4 linked regions of the Homo sapiens genome follow. The protein of the gene in region 3 interacts with the protein of the main gene of each other region in a pairwise test. Each region holds a gene or a part of one and is shown on either strand. Other genes may lie near its edges. The genes, in order: SCGB1A1, CLIP4, TRIM32 and TTC23.

The links.
Region 1: the proteins of TRIM32 (region 3) and SCGB1A1 interact in binary tests that used the Homo sapiens proteins (3 or more experiments, as listed by UniProt).
Region 2: the proteins of TRIM32 (region 3) and CLIP4 interact in binary tests that used the Homo sapiens proteins (3 or more experiments, as listed by UniProt).
Region 4: the proteins of TRIM32 (region 3) and TTC23 interact in binary tests that used the Homo sapiens proteins (3 or more experiments, as listed by UniProt).

The regions. Positions count from the first base shown.
Region 1 is NC_000011.10:62,414,587-62,422,032, forward strand, and holds the start of SCGB1A1 (uteroglobin precursor), read left to right. Parts: upstream 1-4,446; 5' UTR 4,447-4,509; coding exon 4,510-4,564; intron 4,565-7,446. UniProt on the Homo sapiens protein: Binds phosphatidylcholine, phosphatidylinositol, polychlorinated biphenyls (PCB) and weakly progesterone, potent inhibitor of phospholipase A2.
Region 2 is NC_000002.12:29,153,407-29,160,431, forward strand, and holds part of CLIP4 (CAP-Gly domain-containing linker protein 4), read left to right. Parts: intron 1-2,947; coding exon 2,948-3,037; intron 3,038-3,797; coding exon 3,798-3,941; coding exon of another isoform or gene 3,942-3,996; intron 3,997-6,926; coding exon 6,927-7,025.
Region 3 is NC_000009.12:116,682,969-116,690,318, reverse strand, and holds the start of TRIM32 (E3 ubiquitin-protein ligase TRIM32), read right to left. Parts: upstream 3,015-7,350; 5' UTR 2,938-3,014; intron 2,751-2,937; exon of another isoform or gene 2,654-2,750; intron 1-2,653. UniProt on the Homo sapiens protein: E3 ubiquitin ligase that plays a role in various biological processes including neural stem cell differentiation, innate immunity, inflammatory resonse and autophagy.
Region 4 is NC_000015.10:99,239,557-99,246,581, forward strand, and holds part of TTC23 (tetratricopeptide repeat protein 23), read right to left. Parts: intron 5,955-7,025; 5' UTR 5,833-5,954; intron 2,004-5,832; 5' UTR 1,809-2,003; intron 1-1,808. UniProt on the Homo sapiens protein: Participates positively in the ciliary Hedgehog (Hh) signaling.

The sequences.
Region 1 (7,446 bases), on a different chromosome or scaffold from region 3:
AGCTCTGAGTTCCAAGCCTTGACTAACACACTTTTTGCCTCACTATCTCAAGCAGAGGGTCAGAAGAGCAGGGGCTTTGCAGGGTCCTGAGGCAGGGGAGAGAAACACCCACCGCCACCAAGCAGGATCTCCCAAGGGCCAGATGGCAGAGCCTATCTGGGACACTTGGTGGTGGCAGTCGAGGTACCTTCCAGAATCAGAGCAAACCTCCAACCTCGCACCTGAAAGGCCAGTGCCCCCGGTGCCCCCAGACTCCCACTGTACCTGTGTGCTTATCTGTCCCATGCATGTCGGACCATGGCCAGGTCCCCTCCTGAGCCTGGGCCCCCTTCATGTGGCTTCCTCCTCCTGGCACATCCCCCGCTTCACCCCAACCACCAGCATCACCCATCCACCAGAGGCCAGCTCAAATGCCAGCCCTCCACGTGCCCTCTCCCCTCTGCCCAGCTACCTTTCTTGGGGCAGCCCCCTTTCTTTTTTTTTTTTTTTTTTTCCTTTTTTTTTGAGACGGAGTTTCGCTCTTGTTGCCCAGGCTGGAGTGCAGTGACGCGATCTCGGCTCACCGCAACCTCTGCCTCCCAGGTTCAAGCGATTCTTCTGCCTCAGCCTCCCAAGTAGCTGGGATTACAGGCAAGCACCACCACAAGCCCAGCCAATTTTGTATTTTTAGTACAGACAGGGTTTCTCCATGTTGTTCAGGCTGGTCTCGAACTCCCAACCTCAGGTGATCCGCCTGCCTTGGCCTCCCAAAGTGCTGGGATTACAGGCATGAGCCACCACGCCCAGCCTGGGGGCAGCCCCCTTTCAACTCCCGGAGCACCATTTCCTTCTCTGACTTCCTCCATCTCCCCACAGAGCATTCCCATCAGTTGCACCCATCTCTGTCTCTCCTCCTAGCTGTTAAGTTCCTCAAAGACCCAGGAGCCAGCTATCCTGTCCCCAGGACCTCGCACCATGAAGGTGGAAAGTAGAGAGCAGAGTCTGAGGCTATGGGTGATGTGACTCCTGCCTAAGACCCCTGCAGCCATCACAGCTGCCCCGGCCAGACCAGCCACTGCCCACAGAGGGATCCACTAGTGGCGGCACTGGATGGGCTTTAGGTGCCCCCAGTGGTCCAGCTCATCTTCCTTGCCCATTTCAGCTCCATTGGCCACAGCTTTCTTTTGTTTGTTTGTTTGTTTATTTATTTATTTATTTTTGAGATGGAGTTTCGCTCTTGTTGTCCAGGCTGGAGTGCAATGGTGTGATCTCGGCTCACTGCAACCTCCACCTCCTGGGCTCAAGTGATTCTCCTGCCTCAGCCTCCCAAGTAGCTGGGATTACAAGCACCTGCCACCACGCCCGGCTAATTTTTGTATTTTTAGTAGAGAGGGGGTTTCACCATGTTGGCCAGGCTGGTCTCAAACTCTCGACGACCTCAGTTGATCTGCCCTCCTCAGCCTCCCAAAGTGCTGGGGTTACAGGCAGGCTACACCTTTCAACAGTCCCTAAGAGGGGAGGGATGCAGACACCTGAAATCCTCAAGATGGGCTAACCTCAAGAGCCCAGATGATGGGACACAGAAGGAAACTTAAAAGAAAGAAGGCACTTCTGAGATGCTTTATGCAAATACAAGCAAATGCATATGTGGATTCTTTTTGCTTTTTTTTGAGACGGAGTCATGCTCTGTCACCAGGCTGGAGGTGCAGTGGCATGATCTCGGCTCACTGCAACCTCTGCCTCCTGGGCTCAAGTGATTCTCGTGCCTCAGCCTCCCGAGTAGCTGGGATTACAGGCAAGCGCCACCATACCCAGCTTTTTGTATTTTTTTAGTAGAGACGGGGTTTCACTATGTTGGCCAGGATGGTCTCAATCTGACCTTGTGATCCACCCGCCTCAGCCTCCCAAAGTGCTGGGATTACAGGCGTGAGCCACCGCGCCCAGCCTTCTCTTTGTTCTTTTTTGCTCTATTCATGCCTTGTTTTTCCCCCTTTGCAGTCTGCCTTGGAGATCATTTCACCATCAGCTCAGAAGATCTTCTTTCTCTGTTTTCAGCCACACAGCGTTTCATTGTAAGGACACACCATAACGTACTTGACAAGTCTTTGTTGGTTGCTAGTTTAGAACGTGTGCTCTTACCGGTGTTAAGGCGTCTCGGAGTGGGACGGTTCCGGGGTCACCACAGCCTTCAACTGTCACATGGCACAAAGGCCTCATGCATGGATTCATTCCAGGGATTCCTGTTTAGCAAGCGTTGCGTACCTTGGCTTACAGCGGCCTCAGCCCTAAAGGAGGTCAGTCAAGTAAAGGAGTCATACAAGAAAATAAGAATTGCAAAGTTAAAATATTGTATAATGGGCCCTGTAAGCAGAGGGGGAAGAGAGGCCCATGGGGAGAGTCACCACCCATCAGAACCACCTGTCGGGGAAGGCTTCACTCCCTATTTTCACCCCCAACCCTATTTTTCCCAAGTCTTCTCTGTGTCAGGAAATAACACCCCATTCCCCCAGCTGCCCAAGTCAGGGTCAGTTCATCAGGAAAGGGATATCAGACCATGTCACTCCCTGATTAAAACCTTCAAGAGCTTCCCACTCTGAGTGTAAAGGCCTTAGAACGAGGCCTTGTGTGCTCTGGCCCCTGAATGCCCCCTTTGCAGGCACAGCAACCCTTTCGAAGCCCTCAGGCACAATGGGGTCCTTCTTTTTTTTTTTTTTTTCTGAGACGGAGTTTTGCTCTTGTTGCCCAGGCTGGAGTGCAATGGCGTGATCTCAGCTCACCGCAATCTATGACTCCCAGATTCAAGCAATTCTCCTGCCTCAGCCTCCCAAGTAGCTGGGATTACAGGTGCCCACCACCACATCCAGCTAATTTTTGTATTTTTAGTAGAGACGGGGTTTCATCATGTCAGCCAGGCTGGTCTCAAACTCCTGACCTTAGGTGATCCACCTGCCTCAGCCTCCCAAAGTCCTGGGATTACAGGCATGAGCCACCCTGTCTGGCCTTTTATTTGTTTATTTATTTTTATTTATTTATTTATTTTTGAGGAGTTCTTGAAGTGCCACGCAATGCCTCTCCATGTCTATCTACCCCAGTTCCCGACTCCTAGCACCACATCTGGCACATCATAGGTGGTCAGCATTTATTGGATGAATGAATGGATCAATATTTGATTGAGTCTTGAAGTACGAATAGAATTTGGCGAAGTGGACAAGGCAGGAAATGTGTATTCAGGCATGAGGCTTAGCTTGTGCATAGGTAGAAAGGCATGAAAAAACATGGAACATTCTCGAATCCACAAATAGTAAGAGAGGGCTAAGTCGTTGTGTGGGGGAGAGGAGAAATGAAGTTCAAATGGTAGGCAAAGGTCAGTGGGCAAGGGCCTTGTAAATTGCACTTGAATTTTATTCTTTAGGCAAAAGGAAGAGTTTAAGGGTTTCAAGAAGAAGGACACGACCAGTGGGTTTTAGGAAGATCATTCTGATGGCCTTTCAGAGGATGGCTGAGGAGAGCTAGCAGGGAGGCAGGGAGGTCGAGTCAGGGGATTTTGACCAGGCCAGGTTAGGTGCTATGAGGCCCGGGCTTTGGAGAAGAACCAGGAAATGGCAACTGGAGGCAAGAAAGGGGAGAAGGCCAAAGCCTGGGAACCATCAACACTTAAGAACAGTAAAGAATAAACATCTAAAGAGAACAAGAAGGAATGGCCAGAAGAAGGAAAACAGGAAAGAACTGAGGCGTGGGAGCGCAAGAGAGAGAATGGTTCGAGAAGGAAGCAGTCACAGGTGTCAAGGCCATTGGGAGGTCAAGTGAGATAAGGACTGAAGGTCCCACCAATTGGGCCATCAGGAGCACAGGACTTGAGAGCACTTCTGGGTGGGAACAGACCCAGCCTGGGGCAGGGCTCAGGTTTCTGATGGGAATTCTGGAAGGGTCCCTTTTATTCAACATGCTTCAATCCAGGGGCCCCCGAAGTCTGACCACAGCAATGCTCCAAACCATGTGTCTTTCCTGGCTTAAGGTTCAGTCGCCCTCCTCAGAGGGGAGCCTATGAAAGAGCCCAGTGGAGTGTCAGGGTCCTGAGTCCTAGTCCTAGTCCTGTCCCTGCCACTTGTGAGGGAACTTGGGCCTCAGTTTCTCCAGGTGGGCTCCACAATTGCTTCTCTTGATCTGGACTGCCCCAGTGCCCAGGTTCAGTGAGTGACACAGGCAGCTGGGTTTCCACATCCTCTGACTTGGGTTCCCTTCACTGCCTCCAGGCAGGGCTCGGCCCTCCACCCCCAAGTGGCCCATTGTGTGAGCTCAGTTTCAGTGGGGACAGAAACTGGGTTGAGAAAAGGGAATATTTACCTATCCCACCAAGCCAATGCCAAGTAAATAGTGCAGTATCTTATGTAGAGCCCTTGCCCTGCCCTTCCCCATCTGGGTGCTGCTGCCTAGAGCATATAAAAGGCACCTTGCTGGGCATGTCTCATACTAGCCCACCAGACTCAGAGACGGAACCAGAGACGGGCCAGAGCATCCCCCTCCTCCACCATGAAACTCGCTGTCACCCTCACCCTGGTCACACTGGCTCTCTGCTGCAGCTCCGGTGAGTGCTCAGAGACCCTTCCCTCCCTCCTGGACTTAGGAACTCTCAGGACCCCCCAGTTCTGCTCAGAAGAAGGAGTGAGCTGCCCATTCCTGCTCTGGAGCTGCTGGGAGGACCTGGGCATGCTGAGTCTCAGAAAACTGGGTCTGGTGAGCAAGCTCATCTTGGAAACTTGGAGAGAGCCCCAGGCTGTAAGGAAGCCTAAAAAGGGTCCCATCTTCTATATCCAACAACCCTCAGAATCCCAGGGAATGGAATAGCCTGGAGGGAGGAGTGGAGAATACCCCATAAAGATGAGTACATCCAGCATAGGAATAATGAGGCCCTCATCCCAGATCTGGACAGACTCCAAGATGCTGAGACCTTGGTGCAGCCTCCAAGTCTGGGGTCTCCACTCCATGCTGGCAGCTGAAGTCACTGGAAGGGGAGCTGCAGGGACTCGTGACCCCAAAAGAAACCCAACCCAAGACAAGGTCTCTCATTCTGGGCACAGAGGAATATTCCAGAAAGAGAGCTTCCCTTTGGGGAACTGCCAACCCAGAGTGAAGTTTTCTAAACATTTCCGTCCTCTGCAAAAGGGATTAGGAGTCTCTGAGTAGTTGCTGCTGTCACTAAAAGGAAAAGAACTGTGGGGGGAAGAGGGGCAGAAAGAGAGACGGAGAGAGGGGGAGAAAGGAAGGAAAGAAGGATCACAGCTCTCTCCAAGATCCCCCGTCTTTGGGGAACTGGGTTATCTAACTCTGTTTTTCACTCTGCGTCAGCCTCTTCCATTCTCATCTGAAAATGCTGTTGTTATTTTTTAATAAACAAACTCCAATTAATTCACTTGGAAAGCTTCACAACACCCATGGAGATAAGTTTTATGACCCTGGGGAGTTAGAAAACCCAAACCAAGAAGCAGTAGGAACAACTATTTTGCAGAGAGGTTTATTTGTTTTTCAGAGAAAATGACATCATTTTGGACTGAAATGTGTATTAATTAGAAGATCTCAGTGCTGTCTGCGTACAGAGGTGGGTGGCTGAGCAAGATAGGACTGCAACATGTTAAGGGGTGGGTCAGAGATGCATTTGTCTATTTGTGTGCACATGCATACAATATTTAACACTTACTTCACACAATGTGCCAATCACTGTCACCCTTTCACATAATATCTCTTTTCATTCTTTTTTTTTTTTTTTTTTGAGACAGAGTCTCGCTCTGTTGCCAGGCTGGAGTGCAGTGGCGCGATCTCAGCTCACTGCAACCTCCGCCTCCCGGGTTCAAGCGATTCTCCTGCCTCAGCCTCCCAAGTAGGTGGGATTACAGGCACGCACCACTGCACCCAGCTAATTTTTGTATTTTTAGTAGAGACAGGGTTTCACCATGTTGGCCAGGATGGTCTCCATCTCTTGACCTCGTGATCCACCCACCTAGGCCTCCCAAAGTGCTGGGATTAGGCGTGAGCCACCATGCCTGGCCTCTCTTTTTATTCTTACAACAACCCTATGAAGTAGGGATATTGGGCCAGGCACGGTGGCTCACGCCTGTAATCCCAGCAATTTGGGAGGCCGAGGTGGGTAGATCACTTGAGGTCAGGAGTTCAGGACCAACCTGGCCAACATGGTGAAACCTTGTCTCTATTAAAAATACAAAAATTAGCCAGGCATGGTGGCGCATGCCTGTAGTCCCAGCTACTTGGGAGGCCGAGGCAGGAGAATCACTTGAACCTGGGAGGCAGAGGTTGCAGTCAGCCGAGATGGCATCACTGCACTCCAGCCTGGGCAATAGAGCGAGACTCCGTCTGAAAACAAATAAATAAATAAAAATAAAATTTAAATTAAATTAAAATTTAAAAAATAAAAAATAAAATGAAGTAGGGATATTGTTCCCATTTTACAGATGAGAAAACTGAGCTACAGAAACACAGAGTGACTTGCCTGGTGACACAGTAAGTTACACATCAAGGACCTAAGTTCTGGAGAGGGTCTGACTTGGAGTGGCAATTTCTAGTGAGGCCCTAGAGTCAGAGGAGGGAAGGCAAATTTGTTCAGAAGGCAGAGAATTCAAGGAAAAGGGATTTGAGACTCACTGGGAAGATGGAGGCAAGCAGTGGGTAGAAAATGGTGACTTTCCCCCATGTTCCTGGTTGTAAGGACCTGAGAAGAAAACAGAGTCTGGAAGCTCTGTGTTGAAGGGAATGAAGTGGTACAAGTGGCTGCTCTGTCCATGAGCTGAGTGTGCCACAGGGCCCGCTGTGCACATGTGCACACCTCTTCCCGGCCAGGTTCGGGGGCCCATGTTTGGCTGGTACAATCTCAATGGCTTCTTTTCTTTTCTTTTCTTTTCTTCTTTTTCTTTTCTCTTGCTTGCTTGCTTGCTTGCTTGCTTGCTTGCTTTTTGAGACAGAATCTCGCTCTGTTGCCCAGGCTGGAGTGCAGTGACGAGATCTCAGCTCACTGCAACTTCTGCTTCCTGGATTCAAGTGATTCTCCTGCCTCAGCCTCCTGAGTAGCTAGGATTACGGGTGCCCAGAACCACGCCCGGCTAATTTTTTGTATTTTTAGTAGAGACGGGGTTTCACCATGTTGGCCAGGCTGGTCTCGAACTCCTGACCTCGTGATCTGCCTGCCTCGGCCTCCCAAAGTGCTGGGATTACAGGTGTGAGCCACCGTGCCTGGCTTACAATCGCTTTTTCCTGCCAGAGCCTGAATTTGTCACATGCCCCCAGTGAAGCATGGCTCAGGGCATCTCTAACCACTGATGAGAGGCAAGTTTCTGGTGGGAAATAAAACCCTCAGTGGCCTCTTCCCAGCCTCCACACTGCATTAAAAAATCAGGCCAGCAGCTTCTATGATCAATACTCTGCCTTGATCTCCAACAGAAAGAAAAACGGCACCTTGCT
Region 2 (7,025 bases), on a different chromosome or scaffold from region 3:
CCTTTTGAGGTCCTCACCATTTTTTTCGACTTCTTATTCATATCCTGTCTCTAGTTCACTTTAATCTCCTCATTCCCTAACTTTGTATGTGCTTTTTTTATCCATACCACCCAATTGTTATTTGTTATCTTGGGTTTTGTCCTCGGATTGCTTTATTTGTGCAAGTGTCCTATTCTCTCGGCAAAATTTTAAACTTTAACTGAACCATGAGAGTAAATTGTAGTGTTGTTTTCACTGTAGCAATGCACAAAACAGGTGCTCAATAAACACTTGGTAATTTGTAAATAGTTGAGGTAGAAAGCTCTCTACCAGGATGAAAGGAATTTGTCCAAGAATTAGGCTGGCCTTTATATTCTGTTCCACTGGGCTATTTGAATATCCCTGTGTCAATACTGCACTCCATAATAAGTAGTTTTTAAAAATAAATCTTGATGTCCAGTAGTGGAAAACCTCCTATCTCATTCTTGATCATTGTCTTGCTGATTTGGGGCTTTTATAAATCACCCTTCCGTATACATTTTACAATAAACTGTTAAGTTTCCTTTTAAAAATTCTGTTGAGGTTTTATCTGATGTTTTAGTTGAAGCTTAAATCAATGGGAAAGAACTGACATCTTTACAATAGTCAGTTTTTAAATTATGAGTTTAGAATATCTTTCTGTTTAATTAGGCCCTTTGAAAATATCCCAACAAAATTGTGTAATTTTTTTCTACAGGTATTTTATATCTGCCTTGTTAGGTCTATTGGTAGGTACTCCATACTTTTTGGTGGCATTATAAGTAGCATCCTTTTAACCTGAAGCCCAGAAGTATACGGTAAATATAGACAGAAAGCTCCAAGAGAAGCCCCCTCTATTTCTGGTCTGAGGAGCAGAAAAGGGGTCTCCTATTAGATAGAATGTGGATGAAATCACCTGTTATCTTTATTGCTTGCCTTTTCTTTCCCTTGTTTCCCATCCAGTCCCCAGGCAGTCCTACGTGGTATGGATGGGCAGCTGTGAATGGGCAGGCACCCGAAACCCCAAGGAAGGGAAATCCATGTCTCTGACCAGAGAAACTTTGGTCCAAGGACATAGATGGAATCCACATTGGTTTTTCTTCTGTTTTCTCACTGCTTGGCCCCAGAGGCACAATCAGTCTCAGGATTGTATGACAGAGCAAGGAAACGAAAGCTTAGACATTCTACTCAGAATACCGGGAAGGGATGCCCAGGAGCAGGAAGTGTCAGGGAAATCATAGAGAGGAGGGGACTCAAGAAAGAGGCCTCACAATTTTGGCTGTGAACTCCTAGGTCTTCTTGCAAGTGGTGTATGCATGGATCTGACCAAAGCCTTTGGTCTCCTTGGTAGACCACTGCTTGGGTCCCAGCCTGACTACTGGGCTGCACAGCACATGAGACAAATTCAAACAGCATTGCAGAGGCTGCGGAAGCGGAACCCACATCAGAACCACAGTGCACAGAGGGTGGTCAGGAACTTCTGCCCAGAGGCTACATGGGTTGACTGCCTGCTAAAATGAAACAGTCAACATCCTCCATAGGATTTAAACAAGACCTATTCCAGTGTCCATACATAATATTCAAAAGACACAAGATACAATTTAAAATTACCCAAAATATGAAAAAGTCAACACCTCTTACAAGGAAAAAGACAGTCCAAGCATAGCAGCTTTGAGATGACATGGACATTGCAATGAACACATAAAGATTTTAAGTAATGTAACCACACTCCAAGAATTAAGGGTGTAGCTGGGCATTGTGGTGCACACCTGTAGTCCCAGCTACTCTAGAGGCTGAGGCAGGAGGATCACTTGAGTCCAGGAGTTTAGGCTGCAATGGGCTATGATTGTGCCACTGCACTACAGCCTGGCTAACAGAACAAGACCCTGTTTCTGAACAAAAAAAAGAATCAAACGTGAACACTCTTGAAACAAATGAAAAGAAAGTTTCAGCCAAGAAATAGAAGATATGAAAAACAACCAAATGATACACCCAAGTGTATACACACACACACACACACACAAGAGTACAAGCAGAACTGTGGAAATCTCAGACTGGTGAATTGTATCACTGCCAACATCCTGGTTGACATATTATACTTATTATACCACAGTTTTGCAAAACATTACCTTTGGAGGAAACCTAGTCAAAATGTACAGGGAATCTCCTTGTATTATTTTTTATAAAAACTTTAAAGAAAATATTTTATAACTGAAAAATGTAATGAAAAATAAAAATTTACTCTTCAGGTTGCCTTCACAAAATGTCTCCTCTCCACCCTCTTCATTCAGTTTCTGCTGTTGGAGTTCAGGCTCTCATGCTTGGACTATGCTAATAATGTCTGACTGGTCCCTGCTTCCAGCCTCTCCCGCTGTGGTTTCGTTGCAGCCCTGCTGTCAGGAGAGTGTTATTTAACTAGACTCTGTTCATGCCAGTATTCCTTTTCAAAGCCCAGCAGAGGCTCCTTCTTTACAGAAGAGTTCTCAGTCCTTAGCTGGGCACTGGCATCCCTGTCTGAAGTGTTACTGTGACCTGTCTGTCTAGTCTTGCTTTTCCTACATTTCATAAGTACTCTGTTCCAGCCAAGCTACTCACTATTTTCTGTGTCTTAAGATTTTCTTTTTGTCCATCAAGAATGCCTGCCCTCAGTTCTTCCTGACCATACGGCTAGTATTCTCAGGAAGAAATCTGACCTGTCCCTTAGGACCCATCTCAGAATGTGATCATCTTGATGAGACATTAATTGATCTTTGTAGCCACTGTTACTGTCTCCTTCTCGTATGCTAGTGCTTATACCAAAACATGTCCTCATATGTCTGTGCAGTTGTTATCCAATATGTTTTCAGAAGTGAGTGAGATTTCGATAATGAGGGATGCATGTACTTTAAAAAATACATTTTATGTTTAATGTTAAAATTCTTGCTTAAAGTGTTTTATTTTTGTGTCCAAGGATTAATGACATCAAAAAAAGATAGTGCTTCTGAGTCAACACTTTCATTGCCTCCTGGTGAAGAACTTAAAACTGTGACAGAGAAAGATGGTAATATACCTTGTAACCTCTGTTTCTCAAAATTTAACTTTTGATGGAACTTTAAAATATGGTAGGAAAACAGTTTATATGGAGGTTAAGTTTTAAAGTTGGCAAGGGAAAAATTATAGTAAAAATTAAACTTGGAAATCACTGAAGCAGCTCATAGCAAGCTATATACATTATATTTTTTGTGTGTAAAGTACTGCATTATGATTCTTTTACTTAAATTAGATAACTACTGGACTAGATTTAAGAAAATAAACGGAAATTCCATAATATAGAGCACTCTACACAAATGTTTCATTTGCCTTTAGCTATCAAATCATTAGATGAATTGAGCATGAGTATTCCTTCTTGCCTTCTGGTTTAACTCAAAATGTCTTAATATTAAACTTTTGTTGCCTTAAAACATATTAATATCATGTTTAATTTTTGTATAAAAGGGGACTCTACTATGTCATCTAAGGTGAGAGGTGACTGATGGTCATTAGATTAGGTAGTCAGTTCACATCAATTGATGTGGTGATACCTCTTACATAAGATTGTGATCTTACCGTGGGAATCCTTAAAATATTATTGCTTGTGTTATAAAATCTTTTATATATAAACTACAATTGCTATTTGGATGAAATTAGGCATTTAATTTGACACTAGATAATCCATAATTGAGGAAGTTAAATGAAGAATTTCAGAAAGATTTGCCTTGACAAGCTGCTTCTTGGTCCACATCTTATTTTCCACCGTTTGACACGTTCTTTATCTGTTACAGTTGCCCTGCTTGGATCTGTCAGCAGCTGCTCCTCTACATCTTCTTTGGAACACAGACAGAGCTACCCCAAGAAACAGAATGCAATCAGCAGTAACAAGAAGACAATGAGCAAAAGCCCTTCCCTTTCATCCAGAGCCAGTGCTGGTATCTATGGCTTTTTCAACCAGGCTTTCTTGGTGTTTTTTATCTTGGTTTGTTTGTAAGTAGATTTGCTCTTTTTAAATGTGTAGAAGGAACCCTTTACTTCAATCAGATTGAACTACTTTTACTCTTCCCCACCTCCCCCGAACCTTAAGCCTTAAGGTCTCTTTGTTTTGCCGTCTCAGATATAAGACTTTGCATTTATTTTCATGTAATTCATTCTTAGTGGTTTTACCTCATCTGAATTTAGCTTCTTCACAGGCCTTTGTGTCATCTTCATATTTAAAAAGCATGCTTTCTGTGTTTTTATTCAAGTGATTGTTTTAAAACTATGTTTGCTTAAAACCTAGGAGAAGGTCAGAGGGTCCTCTCCCAGGATGGCAATACCAGCCAGTTTTGATATGGCTTTTTAACTAGCCGTGAACCTGCATAATCTCACTCAGTCCACATTTCTTCAGTTATTTGTAAAGATACGTAAAACACTTTATCAGACTTCTTTTCGAAATGACATAGATTTTGTCTGTTGCAGTTCACTTATTTGCCTATATAGCGAACTTGTCCAGAAAGGCAAAAGCCATCTTGGCAAAATACGTTCTTCATGAACCTCTTTATTACCAGATTCTTTTTTTAGTGCTTCTATTAATAGTTCTTGTAGTGAACCAACATTTTATTATGGAAAATATTCATGACAGATTTCTAAAAAAATACTTGATGGGAAGAAACCTCCAAAGCTCTCAACAATAACATTGACATAATAAGCCTAAAAACTGGGACCCTAAAAGTAGAGAACCTGAAAGTTTTCCCTGAAATTGTTTGCCTGGAATATTTATTCTCTGAGTGGCTTCCTCTCTCCATACCCCAACCAGTTTTTCTTTATGTTGTGAGGAGCAGAGGTGAGAAGGTACAGTGCTGACACAGCCATCCTGTTTGTCCAAATTTCATTCACATTTTAAGGCCCCCTTCATTTGGTATTTGCACTTTTGACATTTACTTGATTTTAAAATTTATACATGGGTATGGAATTACTTTTTTTTTTTTAACCTTCTAAACAAAGTAGTCTAGCGTGCCTATATATTTACCATTTAAAAAAATAAATTTGAGGGTTATGTCGACTTAAACAACAGTGAAGATGAAGAGAGTTATCAGAGTGAGAAAGAGGACCTTTCAAAGAGGGAGATGGGCCGAGAATGGGAGATATGGGAAAGTCTGTGTTGGGAACCCCAGAGACATGTACTTAAAACATGTTTCTCTAGTGAGTAGATATTCCACTTGTTTTATAGATTTGCATTTGAGGGAGATGTAGACTGCAGAGAACGAACAATAATGGAAAGTTAGGTTAAAAAATTAGAGAAAGAAGAGTGGAAATAAAGGATTCGGGGAATGGGAAAGGTAGGGACCTCGGCCTCATCATATCCCATTGTTATTTACTTTTTATTTTTTATTAAAGACAAGGTCTTGCTGTGTCGCCCAGGCTGGGGTGCAGTGTTGCAATCATAGTGACTGCAGCCTTCAACTCCTGGACCCAGGTGATCTTCCTACCTTGGCCTCCTAAAGTGCTGGGATTTACAGGCATGAGCCATCATGCCCAGCCTGTGTCCCACTGTTGAACTTGCCATCTTTGGTTCATTGTCTACAGGCGACAAGGGGACGGGCCTGAGGATTTCTGATCACAGAGTCTTGGTTTTAATCTAGGTGTACCACTTACTGGCTGTTAACAGTGTGTCTTAGTTAATTCCTGAGTTTGTATCTTATTTTTCAGCATAATTTTTAGGAAAAGCACTTTGTAAACTATGAAGTGCTATAGAATATTGGTTATGATGAGGGCCTCGGACTTACTGGTATAATCCAGACCTTCTCCATGGGTTTATTTTCCTTGTTTAGTTGCTGTGTTTTTGATTTCTTCTTTTTTCACAGTATGACTTACCCTCCATCCCATGCCCTCCTCCAGAGTTCTCTACTCCCTCTCAGATGGCAGCTCTTCAAATCTTTGTTTATGTACTGATGGGACAAGGCTCAAGCACCCACTTCTTCTCTTTCAGCTGTTATATTTGAACAGCTTTCTAGATCATATTTCTCTAGGACTTCTATGTTTAATAGTGGGCATTTCAAGGTTTAGTTTTGAATCAGGTTGACAGGGCAGTGGTTTTGTTCTTAATAACAAAATCACTTTAGGATAATTAGAACCGTATAGCAATTTAACCTTCAAATCACACTACTTTTGGCTGGTCACAGTGGCTCATGCCTGTTATCTTAGCACTTTGGGAAGCTGAGGTGGGAGGATCACTCAAGCCCAGGAGTTTGAGACCAGCTTGGTCAACACAGCAAGACCCTGTTTCTTTAAAAAAAAAAAAAAAAAAAAAAAAGTCAAATCACATGACTTTTTATATAATTTACACTGAGTCTAAGTGAACTATTAATACTATAATTCTAGTATTTTAGTAGAATAGAAATTGTCAAACTATGGCCCATGGGCCAAATCTGACCTACCACTTGTTTTTGTAAATAAAGTTCTTTGGAATGCAGCCATGCACATTTGAAAAAAATATATTGTCTATATCTACTTTCATGCTGCAACAGCAGAGTTCAATAGTTGTGGCAGAGGTGGTATGGCTAGCAAATCCTAACATATTTACTGTCCAGCAATTTGCAGAAACAGTTTGCTGTGACCCCTGTTCTAGTAGAGATGCTGCAGGCAATCTTGGAAGAGTTGGTAGTTTACCAGGGATCAGGTTTTGTGAATTTCCCATGGCAGTAATTTTCCCAGGAAACTCTTCACATTTCCTTTGAGCAGCTTGACCTCACATGTGAGAAACACAACTGTAGATGACTTATGTGATGAAAGGCATCAGATATCAAAATCACCAACTAACTAGACTAGTTAGAATACCTAGTGTGATTTTTTGGCTAATGTGCTTTTTGAGTTTTTCTCCCTTTGTTTTTTCTCCTCTTTTCCTGCCCTGCCCCTGTATCCCTCCCTGACTTAAACAGGTTTGAATTCCTCAGCAACATCTACAGCAAATAATAGCCGTTGCGAGGGGGAACTCCGCCTCGGAGAGAGAGTGTTAGTGGTAGGACAGAGACTGGGCA
Region 3 (7,350 bases):
TATTTTTCTTATCTGTAAACAAGGAATAAAACCTAGACTGTTAGCAGGATTGAATTCACTAAGATAATGCACATAATAAGCACTCAACAAATTATAATCATTTGCATTTTTAATAGATTGAGGCTGACAGGACAAGTGCCGTAGCTACTGACAAGGTAACATAGGAAATTAGAGTAAGGAGTTTAGACAGGGCTGATTTAATTCCCATGACATATTTTCTTTTAGGGATGTGCACAGATATTCCAGCTAAGTCTTGCTGTCAGACACAGTCTAGCTTTGTTTCTGAACTGGCTTCAGCAACCCTGTAGCTAGTCCTGGAAATGATAGAGCCAAATTCTGTTCCAGGGAAAAGCAGACCAAAAGAGACCATACAGAACAGTAGTTACTCTCCTTCAGAGTATGACTGCCTTCAGCCTCAGTCCCTGCTATGAGGTGTTTTTTCAAGCCAATGGCCTCCATACCTCACCCTATAGTCCGTTGCACCTCATCCTGCCTGATAACCTCAGGCTCCTCTCCTTATCTAGCCCCAGGTCTTGGTCTAAGGGCAAACCAAGAACAAAGTCCAGGGCTCCTCCCTACCTAATCAGAGAGATTTACCCCCCAACTTTAGAGTTCAATCTGATAGTCAGTGATACTCACTGGCAATCCTCTTTTTCATTAGAGGGGAATGGGCTGAGAAAATAAGACTAAGCAGGCCCTAGCAAGGAAGAAGCAAGGAAAGCGGGAATATACGGAGTTACAGAGATCTGGGTATGAGCTTAACTGTGTCATTCCTAGCTATGGAAACTTAGGCAAGTCACTTCCTAAGCCTTAGTTTCCTCATGTGTAAAACTGAATACAGTAGAGCCTACTTAGAAGGACTGTCATGAAAACTGAGTAAAGAAGTAGATACAAGACTAAAAATTACTAGATTTTGAGAACTTACTATGTGCCAGATCCTAGGCATGCTAGTTTACTTCACTAAATCCTCACAACAATTCTGTGACATTGGTCTTGTTATCATAACCCCATTTTACAGATGAAGAGCCAAGGCACTGGGTGGTTAAGTAACTCATTCAAGGCCACAAAGTCAGGAAGAGATAGAGCTAGGACTTAAAGTCAGGAAGAGATAGAGCTAGGACTTGAACCCAGGGTATCTGACTCTAGGTCAGAGTGCCTCAACTTTGGCATTACTGACATTTTAGGCAGGATAATTCCTTACTGCGGGGGGGAAGGGCGTATCCCACACATTGTCAAATGTTTAACATAAAACATTATGTTTAATGTTTAATCTACCCACTTGAGGCCAGTAGTATCCCCCACCCTGTGACAACCAAAAAACATCTCCAGACATTGCCTAATGTCTCCTAGGAGACAAAGCCAGACTTGGTTAAGAACCACTGCTTTACAGTCTAGCACAGGACTAAATGCTCAATACCTAAGGGTTCCCTTTTTTTTTTCTGGTGGTTGTTGTTGTTGTTTTGTCTGTCTCCGAGCCCAAACACCTCACTCACAGAGCCACTGCCCCTTCAAGCTGTAATGGATCTTATATAGGATAAATTATTCCACTCATTCCCCTGGAGGTCTCACTTTCTATCTGCTATCGTAGCTTGGGGGTACAGGGAAAAAGGGCTTAGGCAGATGACCTTGAATAGTTCCACTTCTTCTTCCCCAAAGCCTACCACTTTCAGTGGGCCGGGGGACCGGTGGTCAGAATGGAGTTAGTGGCAATACCATACCTGCCTCATGATAACGGATCTTTGTTTAATAAATGAAGAAGATTCTGCCCTTCACAGGGATTACCACACTCCTTCAGGATTATCTGAACTGAAGATTTATCACTTTGTTCCTCAGCACCTGAACTCTGCTCATCTTCATATACTCATCCAGTTTCATACATTACTTTTAGGTCCTTGGGTCCCCTGAACTCCCTCTGTCTCCCATGCAGCGATTTAAGGAAAATCTCTTTAGCAGCCCAAGACACCAATCCACAAATCTACTCAGGGTCCTTTGATTTTATAGCCCAGTTAGGACATCTCCACCCCACGATTCAATCCTCTCCAAACCCTGTCCCCAACCCTCTTACAATTCCAAATTCCAATCTTTGGGGCTGTATATTGCAACCCTCGTCAATTCCTCACTCATATGCCCCAAATCCCTCGGACTCAGATCGTTTAATCCCTATTTCCAAATCTCTGCCACACTCAGCCCCGCACCTCAGTTCAACGCCCCAATTCCTCACCCCAGATTTCTGCTCTCCCTCAATCTGAGCCCCCATCTCCTGCATTCCATCGGGCACTGTGCTGCCCTCATACCCTGCTCCTTCCTCTTATGCACTGAATGTCATGTGCTGCCTTCACACCTCAGCCAGCTCCCTTCTTTCTGCTAACAAGATAGAGTCCCTCAAGAACTCACCCCACCCCCTCAATCTCACCCTCAGCCCACTCCGAAAACCCTTTCTCAATAGCACTTAGGATCGCCCTAGACCTTGCTCCTATCATCTCAGACCCTGTCCTTGCCAGATGCCTAGCGCCCCCAGATTTCCTCAAATCTCATCGGGGCCCCCCAGTTCCTTCATATTTCTGAAATTCTGCACCCAGGTCCCTCCAGGGCCCTGATTCCCTCCCATCTCCCACATGCTACACCCCGTTCCTCCTCAGGGCCCCGACATTACCTCATACCTCCCGAGATGCTGCAACCGCAAATCTCTTCAGAGCCCCTCGCTCCCCTCCCCCAGCTGCATCTCCTCGGATCTCCTCAGCCCCACGAATCCCTCCCGAGCCTGCCCCTCGCAGCCCCACCCCCACCCTAGTCCTGCCCCCCCCAGATCCGGTCCCCACACCCTGCCATTCGGGCGCGGCCGCTGCACGCCGGCACGTTCCCCCGCCTGGCCGCTGAGCCACGGCCCACGACTCCGGCCGCGGTCCCCAGTCCCCAACCCTCCTTCCCGCCCCCTACCTGACCGCCCGCGGCTCCGACGAGTCCACCGCCGGCAGCCCACCCGCCTGCCTCCCTCTGCGCACGCGCCGTTGAGCACCCCTTGCCGGGCGCCAATTCGCAGAGCTCCCTGTCCGTCACTGAGCCCCGCCTCCCCAGCATGCTGGGGCTTGTCGTGCAGCTGGCCCCAAGCGCGCGGGGCAAGGCGGCCCTGCAGGGGTGAGCTTTCCTCTGAGAACCCGGGGCCTTAGCGACACGTAATCCAGTTTTCCGTCTCCTTGGTGCAGATGAAGAAACCGACGCCCATGGGCGAAAGGGACCTGCTCAAGTTCACTCAGTAAGTCAGGAGATAAGCCAGAATGCGTATCTGACTCCAGTCTCAATGTCTACCCCTTCACAAAACGGTAGCCTCCAGGGTAGTCCTCAGCAAAGCGTTGGCACCTTACTGAATCTGTTTTTCCATCTGAGAAATGGGCCAACGGAAAAATCAAACTTCCATTCTGGGGAAGTCGAGAACCGGGACTCCCTAGGAAGGGCAGTGCTTTGGCCTCATGTTCTGTGCTCTGACAGAGAGCTGCACTAGAGACAAGTTTATCCATGAACACATTGCTCTGTAAAGGAATGTTTTGCCTACTCAGCTGGGAGGCCGACAGCAGAGGCAGACTTGGGGAGTACACTCTGCAGCCCCTGTCCCTGCAGACTGAAGGTACCCGGGAACCCAAACCAAGTGTAGTTTTGCTCGGGTGAAGGTGGAGGAATCTTACCAGGTGGGAGGTGATCTGGCCTGAGATTTGAGGGAATCTGGGGCACTAGGCATCTGGCAAGGACGAGGTCTGATACAGGACTGGCTGGCCACGACCTGCAGTCCCTGAAGTAGTTTGGGGCCAATCACCTACTCTCCAAGGTGACTATACTGTACAGCTTAGGAGCACAAAGGAGTTTGAAGTAGGATGGACTTGGATTTGAAATTCCCCTTAGCTATGTGACCCTGCACAATGATAAAACAATAAACAAAAACAATGACTAACATCTTTGAACACTTGCTGTCTGGCTACAGCTGAGGACTTCAGGTGCATAGCTCACTAAATCCTCATAAGGACCTAATGAGATAAGGCAGCTGATGGTTAACCTACACCTGTTGTGTAACCTAGGTGGTTACACAAGGCCACATATACCTAAGTGTTGGAGCCCAAATTTGTACCCAATTCTATCTGAGAACCCACTCTCTTAACCTTGTTTACTCTTTCTCCCCATTTTCTAAATTTCTAATTGAAGTTTGCCATGAAGATAAGCCAAGATTATGGTAGTTTGCACTTAATGATAACTATATTTGAAAAATTGTAATTAGCAGGTAGGGGATAAGGGAGAGGTAATGCCAAATGATTTCTCACTTAGACCAGTTGGGGAGACTTTGCACCCGTTTAAAATTTTTTTTTTTCCTGAAAACCACAGTTATCAGCCCAAAGTATAAATTTAGGACTGTTCATAGTCTTACATATATACATATTATATATGTGTGTATATGTATCAATACAGACATACTGATGTTTCCCTAATTACAGAGGAGTGTTAAAAATACTCCTGGGGATCTAGCTCAAGCAAGTGTCTTGAAAAAAAAAAATCTCTCTTCTCCCTTAAAACAAAAATCAGTGTTTGACTCTTCTTTAATGTTTATTACCAGTTAAATGAATTATTATACCTCTCACAAAATCTTAGAGTAGAATAAGCATTCTAGGAAATGCACTCAATTTTTATCTTATAGCTTGACATATCCTGGCACAATATTAGAATTCCTCTTACACAGAGGCATTTAAAAAATAATCTTTGTGGAGTGCTTTAAACACTCTTTATTCAGCATTTTAATGTAACAGATTTTTATTTAACACTTAAATCACCTATATCAGTGGAACCACCTGAGGAGTTTACCTTGCCCACTGCCTAGACAGAGCTGATTCATCAAGACAGGGGAATTGCAATAGTTAAAGAGTAATTCACGCAGAGTCAGCTGTGCGGGAGACTGGAGTTTTATGATTACTCAAGTCATCTCCCTGAGCATTTGGGGAACAGAGATTTTAAGGATAACTTGGTGGGTTGGGGGAAGCCAGTGAGCCAGGAGCGCTGTTGGTCAGGGATGAAATCATAGGGAGTCGAAGCTGTCTCCTTGCAGTGAGTCAGTTCCTGAGTGGGGGGGCCACAAGATCAGATGAGTGAGTTTATTGATCTGGGTGGTGCCAGCTGATCCATCAAGTGCAGGGTCTGCAAAATATCTCAAGCACTGATCTCAGAAGCATTTTAGGGAGGCTCAGCATCTTGTAACCTCCAGCTGCATGACTCCTAAACCGCAATTTCTAATCTTGTGGCTAATGTTAGTCCTACAAAGGCAATCTAGTACCCAGGCAAGGAGGTCTGCTTTGGGATAGGGTTGTTACTGTCTTTGTTTAAACTATGAACTACAGACTAAATTTCTCCCAAAGTTAGTTCAGCCTATGCCCAGGAATGAACAAGGACAGCTTGGAAGTTAGAAGCAAGATGGAGTCAGTTAAGTTAGATCTCTTTTACTGTCTCAATCATAATTTTGCAAAGGCAGTTTCAGTCCATCACTTTGGGTTTTGTAACACCTTAATCTTAAAGTGTAGGGTATGAAGATGGGAAAAGGCTGTCGATTGCTCTGGGTTCTTCTTGCTGACAGGGGACGTAGTGGGAATGGGAGTCAACCCCAAGGTGAGAAGAGTGGGACCACTTTCAAGTGTCTGAGCGACTCATGCAGGTCTGGCTGGGCTTCTAAGGCTTGCATGGCAAAAACATTAGTACTCTCATCTATAGTTTTAGTACAGTATTTAGGTGAACAGCCTACTATAAGGTAAATAATGAGTCCTAGGATGAGGAGTACAATACTCAATTTTAAAAGCAAAGATTTGAAAGCATTAGTCTGGCGACTTCCAACCCACAAATAATTTAGGATTTAGTCAAAATTGTAGAAAAAACTCAAGGACAGCTAACAACAGCTAACAATAGGTTTCCTCTTGAAGCATAATTTCTCTCTCTCCAGACCCCATTTTTATTAAAAACAAATCATGATAGAACTGATTTGTTTACAGAAATGTACTTTAGTCTTACTATACTTGGCCTGATTATTTGCATAAAGTGCAGCAAGAATAATTATTTTTCACTTAGGGTCTTTTTTGTTTAAATTAGCTTTGATGGAACTCTGTTCCATGAGGAATCTCAGATAAGAGTTTTTAAAAGCCAAGCTCAGCCATGGGTTTGTATCCTCAAATACCTATGAGTTGGGTAAATTCCTCTCTTCTCAAGGTCCCAAAATAACTTGGGGTTCCTGGGCCTGTTAGAAAGTGACATTCTTTACTTACCACAGGTCAGGAACCTTGTACAGGGACTGTATGACAGAACCTTGTACAGGGACTATAGACAAGGTCTGAGGTTAGATTCCCCAGGGGGCTTTAATTGGCTCTATACATTAATTTTGATTCTTTGAAGGAAGCATGCCATTCCAGTAAAAGCCTTGGTAAAATAATCAATTTCTCCAGTTGTGTCCTGTTACAAGACAAAAACAGATTCTTACTGCACTTATGCAATTAAGTATACTGGCATAAATTGAGAATACTTACAAATAGTTTCCATATTCAGGAGAAATCAGGTAGAGAGAAACAAATATGCTCTAAATTTTTTTCATGGAAGTATTTTTTACTCATTTGTTAAAAGTTGCAAATAACTCTAAAGAAATATGCTATCTTGACTCTGAAAATGAGAGGATTAGCAATGCTTAACACATCAGCTATCTGTGAGAAGCCTAGAAGTTTCATTTTTTCCTCTATTCCAATAAAACAATTTTTAAAGTTATCTGAGACCTGCACTCAGAGTGTGATATCTGATTATAAACTGCCTTTTGAAAAGGACAAAAGCAAGACAAAATGTCTATGGATGACAAAAGTCTATAGCTACTATTAAAGCTGCAATTGACTAGGAATCTTGGTTACTTCTGTGGCATACAACACTTTTATATAACAATTATAATTATTAATAATGTACTCTAAATCATATCAGAATTATAGAAGTTTCCCATAATTTCTGGAACACATACTAATAACATATTTATACAAATATAGTCCAAAGAAAACCAAACACTATTCACTCTTCAATTTGAAAGTTTTTCCTCGATTCTAATATCACAGTCTCCAGAGTTTTTAATCAGAAACCTGCATTTAAGAGGGCCTGTTAAATTTTATAGCTGATTATAAAACCATCCGTTAAAGAGGACCAAAGCGAGACAACAATTGTATATGGATGACAAAAACATTTTAGGGCAGCCACACTTTTTTTTTTAATTTATTTTTTATTTTTTATTTTATTTTATTATTATTATACTTTAAGTTTTAGGGTACATGTGCACAATGTGCAGGTTAGTTACCTATGTAT
Region 4 (7,025 bases), on a different chromosome or scaffold from region 3:
AGATTTAACAGGAAAGCTTTGCCTACACCCTGTTGTACAGAGACACAGTGCTATTTGAGATCCTAAGATGTTGGCTAACTTTTTTCTAATAACTTCTTGCCTTATGCTTCCTCATCTGTTCAACCCCACTGGCTGATAAGATGACCATTTCAACAGGTGCTGCAGTCTAGGGAAAGAGCAGTAGCCAGAGATGGAGAATCTGAGATTCAAGAACCTGTGCTGTCCCAACTACCCATGTGATTTGGGCAATACCAACTAATATATACATAACACTTTATACTTTCACATGTTTTATCTCATGTGGCCCTTACAACCATGTAAGGTACAGAGGGTAGCTATTATCATCCCCATTTTATAAATAAAGACGATGAAATGAACCTAAATCAGTTGCACATCACACAGCCAGAATTAGCACCCTGGTCTTCTCATAATTTGGGGGTTTCCCATGACATCATCCTGCCTTTCACTGACCACAGTCTACAGCAGTGGGAAGCAAATGCTGTTGCTTTGGAAACCTAAGCCTGCATTTTAAAAAGTGATCATACATTTTTATAAACAGGAATGCAACATCTTCAATAGATTTAACTATATTTTCTTATCTTCCATTTAGTGGGAGGCAGAAAAGAAAGTTTAAAGATGAAATAAGTAAGAGGCCCTGCAGTATTTGTTATTCTGGGCCTCTGAACCTAGTGTTAAACTTCGAAATGGATTTAACTTTTCTTTTTTGGCTTAATTGTAAAAACTGGTTTGTCTCATGCTGCCTCTTAATATTGCATCCTTAAAAGAGAGGTTATATTTATTCTGAGCACTCATAGGCTCATCTAACTTGTATATATATATTTTTTTTCGCCAGTTAAAAAAAATTGAGCCATCATTTTAAAATTAGGAGTTTCACATGAAGATGTAGATTTTGGGGTTTCTGACTTCCTTTGAAAACTCAGAACACTTGTCAACACTAGATCTATGCCACCACAGGCAATAATCAGCTAGGGAAGAGGGGGAGCTGCCCTGGGGGCAAGGGTACTCTCCAGTTTGCCTGTTGCCACCAATCCCTATTGGCTACCGGACATGAAGGCAGCAAAGTCGTTCCCATTTGTCATTGTTCTTGTGTCTTATTGTAGGAAAGTAGGTCTCTGTATCCATTTCTCTCTTTCAAAGTGAAAGGCCAACAGAGAAGGATATAATTTTCCTGGCCAACACCACTCATTTTCTGTTATTTCGTCTAATCTAAAGCACCACTGACTATAAAGATGCTGCTTTTTTATACACCATTTGACTTGCAATTGTAACGTTCACTCTAATTTCAGAGATGTTCAAATGCCAAAAAAAATGTACGTCTCTGAATCAATGAAAGGAGGAGGTATGCTACCTGTCTGGCTTCTAGAGGCATTTGAGTCTGTGGCCTTACTTTAAATGTATGTGTTTCAATGTATGTGGCATCACACAGTAACATCCTCAACATAAAAACATACTTCTCAGGCAGGGCGCGGGGGCTCATGCCTGTAATCCCACCACTTTGAGAGGCTAAGGCTGGCAGATCACCTGAGGTCGGGAGTTCGAGGCCAGCCTGACCAACATGGAGAAACCCTGTCTCTACTAATACAAAAAATTAGCCAGGTGTGGTGGCACACACCTGGTAATCCCAGCGACTCGGAGGCTGAGGCACAAGAATCGCTTGAACCTGGGAGGCAGAGGTTGCAGTGAGCCGAGATTGTGCCACTGCACTCCACCCTGGGCAACAAGAGCGAAACTGTCTCAAACAAACAAACAAACAAACAAACAAAAAACATGCTTCTCAGTTCACTTACTTTGAGTTACATGCTTATCATCAGCCACTTTTCTTTGTAGTAGCTATAGCTGGGGCTTAAAATTTCATCAGACATCAGCCCAGGTCCCACAAACCATCCTCTTCTTGCCAGCCGTGGGTTCAGCTTTCTAGGTCTCTGAATCACAACTGCCAATGAGACCTACTCAGTCAGTTGATACTGTTCCTTCTGCCAGACCTGCCCAGTAGAATGTTAAAGCACATAATCAGCCCCAGATCAGGGTGTTAGGAAGAAGAGGTCTGAAGTGGAGTCTCAGTCTTCCAAGTGGTGATGTTCAAAATAATAACTGAAATAGCAGGAGGGCCAACCAATCTATATAGGTGCCAACTAGGCTGGAGCTCAGTTCTGAAGGTCCCCTGCTTTTCCAGGTGTGAACCGTTGGAGGCTGACTTGTGGAGAGATGTAGGGGAGCCTGAGGAAGGGGCAGGGGCCCTCAGGGCAGTGGCTTTTAGGAAATAAAAAACCTCATCAATCAGGGACGGTGGCTCATGCCTGTAATATCAGCACTGTGGGAGGCTGAGATGGGTTGATGGCTTGAGCCGAGGAGTTCAAGGTCAGGCTGGGCAACATGTCAAAACCCCGTCTCCACTAAAATTGCAAAAATTAGCCGAGTGTGGTGGCGCTCGGCTTCTCCAGCTACTTGGGAGGCTGACGGGAGAGGACTGCTTGAGCCCAGGAGGCGGAGGCTACAGTGAGCTGAGATCACACCACTGCACTCCAGCCTGGGTGACAGAACAAGATCCTGTCTCAGAAAAAAAAAAAAAAAGTTAAAAAAAAGAAGCCATTATGACTAGTTTCTTAACTAGTGAAAGTGTACGCTAGTTAAGAAGCAAACTTACCCATATGTAAGCTAACGCACTGGAAAAACACTCTAAAAAGATAAAAAATACCAAAAAAATAGTGATAAAAAAATAACAGAAAAATAGAAAATCTGAATAGATCTATAACAAGTAAAAAAATTAAATTAGTAATTAAAAATATTTATACAAGGTTAAGCCCAGGCTCAGATGGCATCAGTGATGTATTCTACCAAACCATTAAAGAAGAAACAACATGAGTATTTTGAAAACTCTAACAGAAGATAGAGAAGGAAACTCTCACTTGTTCTATGAGGTCAGTATTACCCTGATACCAAAGCCAGACAAAGACATCACAAGAAAATAACAAATGAATACCCTTCATGAATATGGACACAAAAATCCTCAACAAAATATTGGCAAACCAAATCTAGCAACATATACAAAGGATAATACATTATGATCAAGGGGAGTTTATCCTAGAAATGGAAGGTTGGTTTAACATCTGAACTCATTAATATAATACACTATACAGTAGAATGTGGTCACAAACCATCTGATCATCTTGATAGATGCAGAAAACACATTTGGCAAAATCCATTATCCAATCATGATTAAAAAAACTTCCCCAACCTGATAAAAGGCTGATAAAAGCCTGATTTTACAAATCAAAGTGGATTAAAGACTTAAATATAAGACCTGAAACTATAAAATTACCAAGAGAAAACACTGGGGAAACTCTCTGGGACAGTGGTCTGGGGAAAGAATTCTTAAGAAAGATCTCAAAAGTACAGGCAACCAAAACAAAAATGGACAAATGGGATCACATCAAGTAAAAAAGCTGCTGTATAGCAAAGGAAACAATCAACAAAGTGAAGAGACAACCCACAGAATGGGAGAAAATATTTGTAAACTACCCATCTGACAAGGGATTAATAACCAGAATATATAAGGAGCTTAAACAAAACCCAATAGGAAAAAAAATCTAATAATCTGATTAAAAAGTGAGCAAAAGATCTGAATAGACATTTCTCAAAAGACATGCAAATAACCAACAAGTATATGAAAAAATACTCAACATCACTGATCAGCACAGAAAGGCAAATCAAACTACAATGAGGTCATCTCACCCCAGTTAAGATGGCTTTTATTAAAAAGGCAGTAACAGATGCTGGTGAGGATGTGGACAAAGGGGGACACTCATACACTGTTGGTGGGAATGCAAGTTATTACAGCCACTGTGGAGAACAGTATGGAAGTTCCTCAAAAAGCTAAAAATAGAAGAACTACCATATGATCCAGCAGTCCCACTGCTCCATATATATCCAAAAGAAAAGTATATCAGAGATATCTGCACTCCCATGTGTACTGCAGCTCTATCCACAACAGCCAAGATTTGGAATCAGCCTAAATGTTCATCAACACATGAATGGATAAAAAAATGTGGTAGATATACACACAAAACAGAACGAAATCCTGTCATTTACAGCAACATGGATGAAACTGAAGGATATTATACTAAGAGAAATTAACCAGGCAGAGAGAGACAAATTTTGTATGTTCTCACTCATTTATGAGAGCTAAAAATTAAAACAACTGAACTCATGAACACAGAGAGTAGAATGATGATTACCAGAAGCTGGGAAGGGTATTGGGCAGGGAGGGAAAAGTGGGGATAGTTAATGGGTACAAAACGTAGTTAGATAGAATGAATAAGATCTAGTACTTGATATCACAACAGGGTGACTACAGTCAACAATAAGTTATTGTATATTTTAAAATAACTAAAAGAGTAGAATTGGAATAATTCTAACACAAAGAAATGATAAGTGCTTGAGGACACAGATACCCACTTACTCTGATGTGATTACTATACATTGTATGCCTGTGTCAAAGCATCACATGTATCTCATAAATATATACACCTACTACTATGTACTCACAAAAATTAAAAATTAAAAAACAAAACCAAAAAATCCTGATTTACAAAAACCTAAAGCTAATATCATACTTAATGGAGCATGTTTGAATGTTTTCCAAGATTGGAAACAAGGCAAGAATGATTTCTCTCACCACCTGTAGTCAAAGTTGTGGATATTACAGTCAGAGCAACAGGCAAGAACAATAAATTAAGGCATGAAGATTAGAAAGGGAGAAATAAAACATTATTATCAGCTGACATAACCCTCTATGTAGAAAATCCTAAGGATTCCACAATAAATAAACAAATAAATCGCCCCCCCCAATTAGAACGACTAAATAAGTTCGGCAAGGCCATAGGATACATAATAAATAAATAAAATTGTATTTTTATATGTCAGCAATAAATAATCTGAAAATAAAATTAAGAAAACACTGATTCAAAATAGGATAAAGAGAATAAATATGTAGGAATAAATTTAACAAAAGAAATACAAGACTTGTACAATGAAAATCATACATTATCGAAAGAAATTAAAGATCTAAATACATGGACATTCCATGTTCATAGATTAAAAGCCTCAATATTAAGATAGAATACTCCTCAAATTGATGTATCGATTTAATGTAATATCCATCAAAACTCAGCTGTTTTTTTGCAGAAATTAACAAGTTGATCCTTATTATGGATGAATTAAGATGGAAATACGAGACTAAGAATAAATAAAACAATCTTAAAAAAGAAGTTGGAGGACTCACACTTCCCATTTTTAAAATGTACTATAAAACTAAAGTAAAAGTAATCAAAAGTGTTGTACTTAAAAATTTTCAGTTATGAGGTAAATAAGTTCTAGAGATATACAGCATGGTAACTATAGAAAATAATTGAAATTTGTTAAGATCTCAGATGTTCTCATCACACACACAAAAATGGTAATTATGTCAAGTGATGAATGTGTGAGCTAGCTCTATTGTGGGAATCATTACAAAAGGTACACTTATATCAAAACACCATGATGTTTACCTCAAATGTATATAATTTTTAGTTTGTCAATCATATTTCAATAAAGCTGGGGAAAAGCCCTCCCCAAAACAACGTGGTGGTACTGGCATAAGAAATGACATATAGAGGCCGGGCGTGGTGGCTCATGCCTGTAATCCCAGCACTTTGGGAGGCCGAGGTGGGCGGATCACTTGAGGTCGGGAGTTCGAGACCAGACTGGCCAACATGGCAAAACGCTGTCTCTACTAGAAATACAAAAAATTTAGCCAGATTTGGTGATAAGTACCTGTAATTCCAGCTACTCGAGAGGCTGAGGCAGGAGAATCGCTTGAACCTGGGAGGCAGAGGTTGCAGTGAGCCAAGATCACACCACTATACTCCAGCCTGGGTGACAGAGCGAGACTCCATCTCAAAAAAAAAAAAAAAAGAATTAATATATAGAAAAATGGGATAGTGTTGAGAGTCCAAAAATAAACTCTTATATATGTGAATTATTTTTTTTAACAAGCATGCCAAGATAATTCAATGGGAAGAGAACAGTCTTTTCAATAAACAATAAACAGTGCTGGTACAACTGGATAGATACATGAAAAGAATAAAGTTGGATCTCTACACCTCACACCATATACAAAAATTAACTCCAAATGGAGTAAAGACTTAACAGTAAGAGGTAAAACTATAAAACTCTTTGCAAATATAGGAGTAAATCTTCATGAACTTTTTTTTTTTTTTTTGAGACAGACTCTCGCTGGAGTGCAGTGGCGTGATCTCGGCTCACTGCAACCTCCACCTCCCAGGTTCAAGACATTCTCCTGACTCAGCCTCCCTGACTCAGCCTCCCAAGCAGCTGGGATTACAGGTGCCTACCACCACGCCCAGCTAATTTTAGTAGAGACGGGGTTTCACCCTGTTGGCCAGGCTGTTCTCGAGCTCCTGACCTGAGGTGATCCACCCGACTTGGCCTCCCAAAATACTGGGATTACAGGTGTGAGTCACAGGGCCCAGCCTGTTAGGCAAAGACTTCTGAGATATAACACCAAAAGCATAAGTGATAAAAGAAAAAAAAAGATAAATTAGATTTCATCAAATCCAAATCTTTACTGCTTCAAAAGACACTATTATTAAAGTTAAAAGACAACCCACAGAATGGGAGACAATATTTGTAAATCATTAATCTGATAAAGGACTTTAACCACAATATATAAAGAACAATTAAAAATCAGTAACATGGGGCTGGGCGTGGTGGCTCACGCCTGTAATCCCAGCACTTTGGGAGGCCGAGGTGGGCAAATCACGAGGTCAAGAGTTCAAGACCAGCCTGGCCAACATGGTGAAACCCTGTCTCTACTAAAAATACAAAAAATTAGCTGGGCATAGTAGTGGGCACCTGTAATCCCAGCTACTCAGGAGGCTGAGGCAGGAGAATCGCTTGAACCTAGGAGGCAGAGGTTGCAGTGAGCTGAGATCGAGCCACTGTAC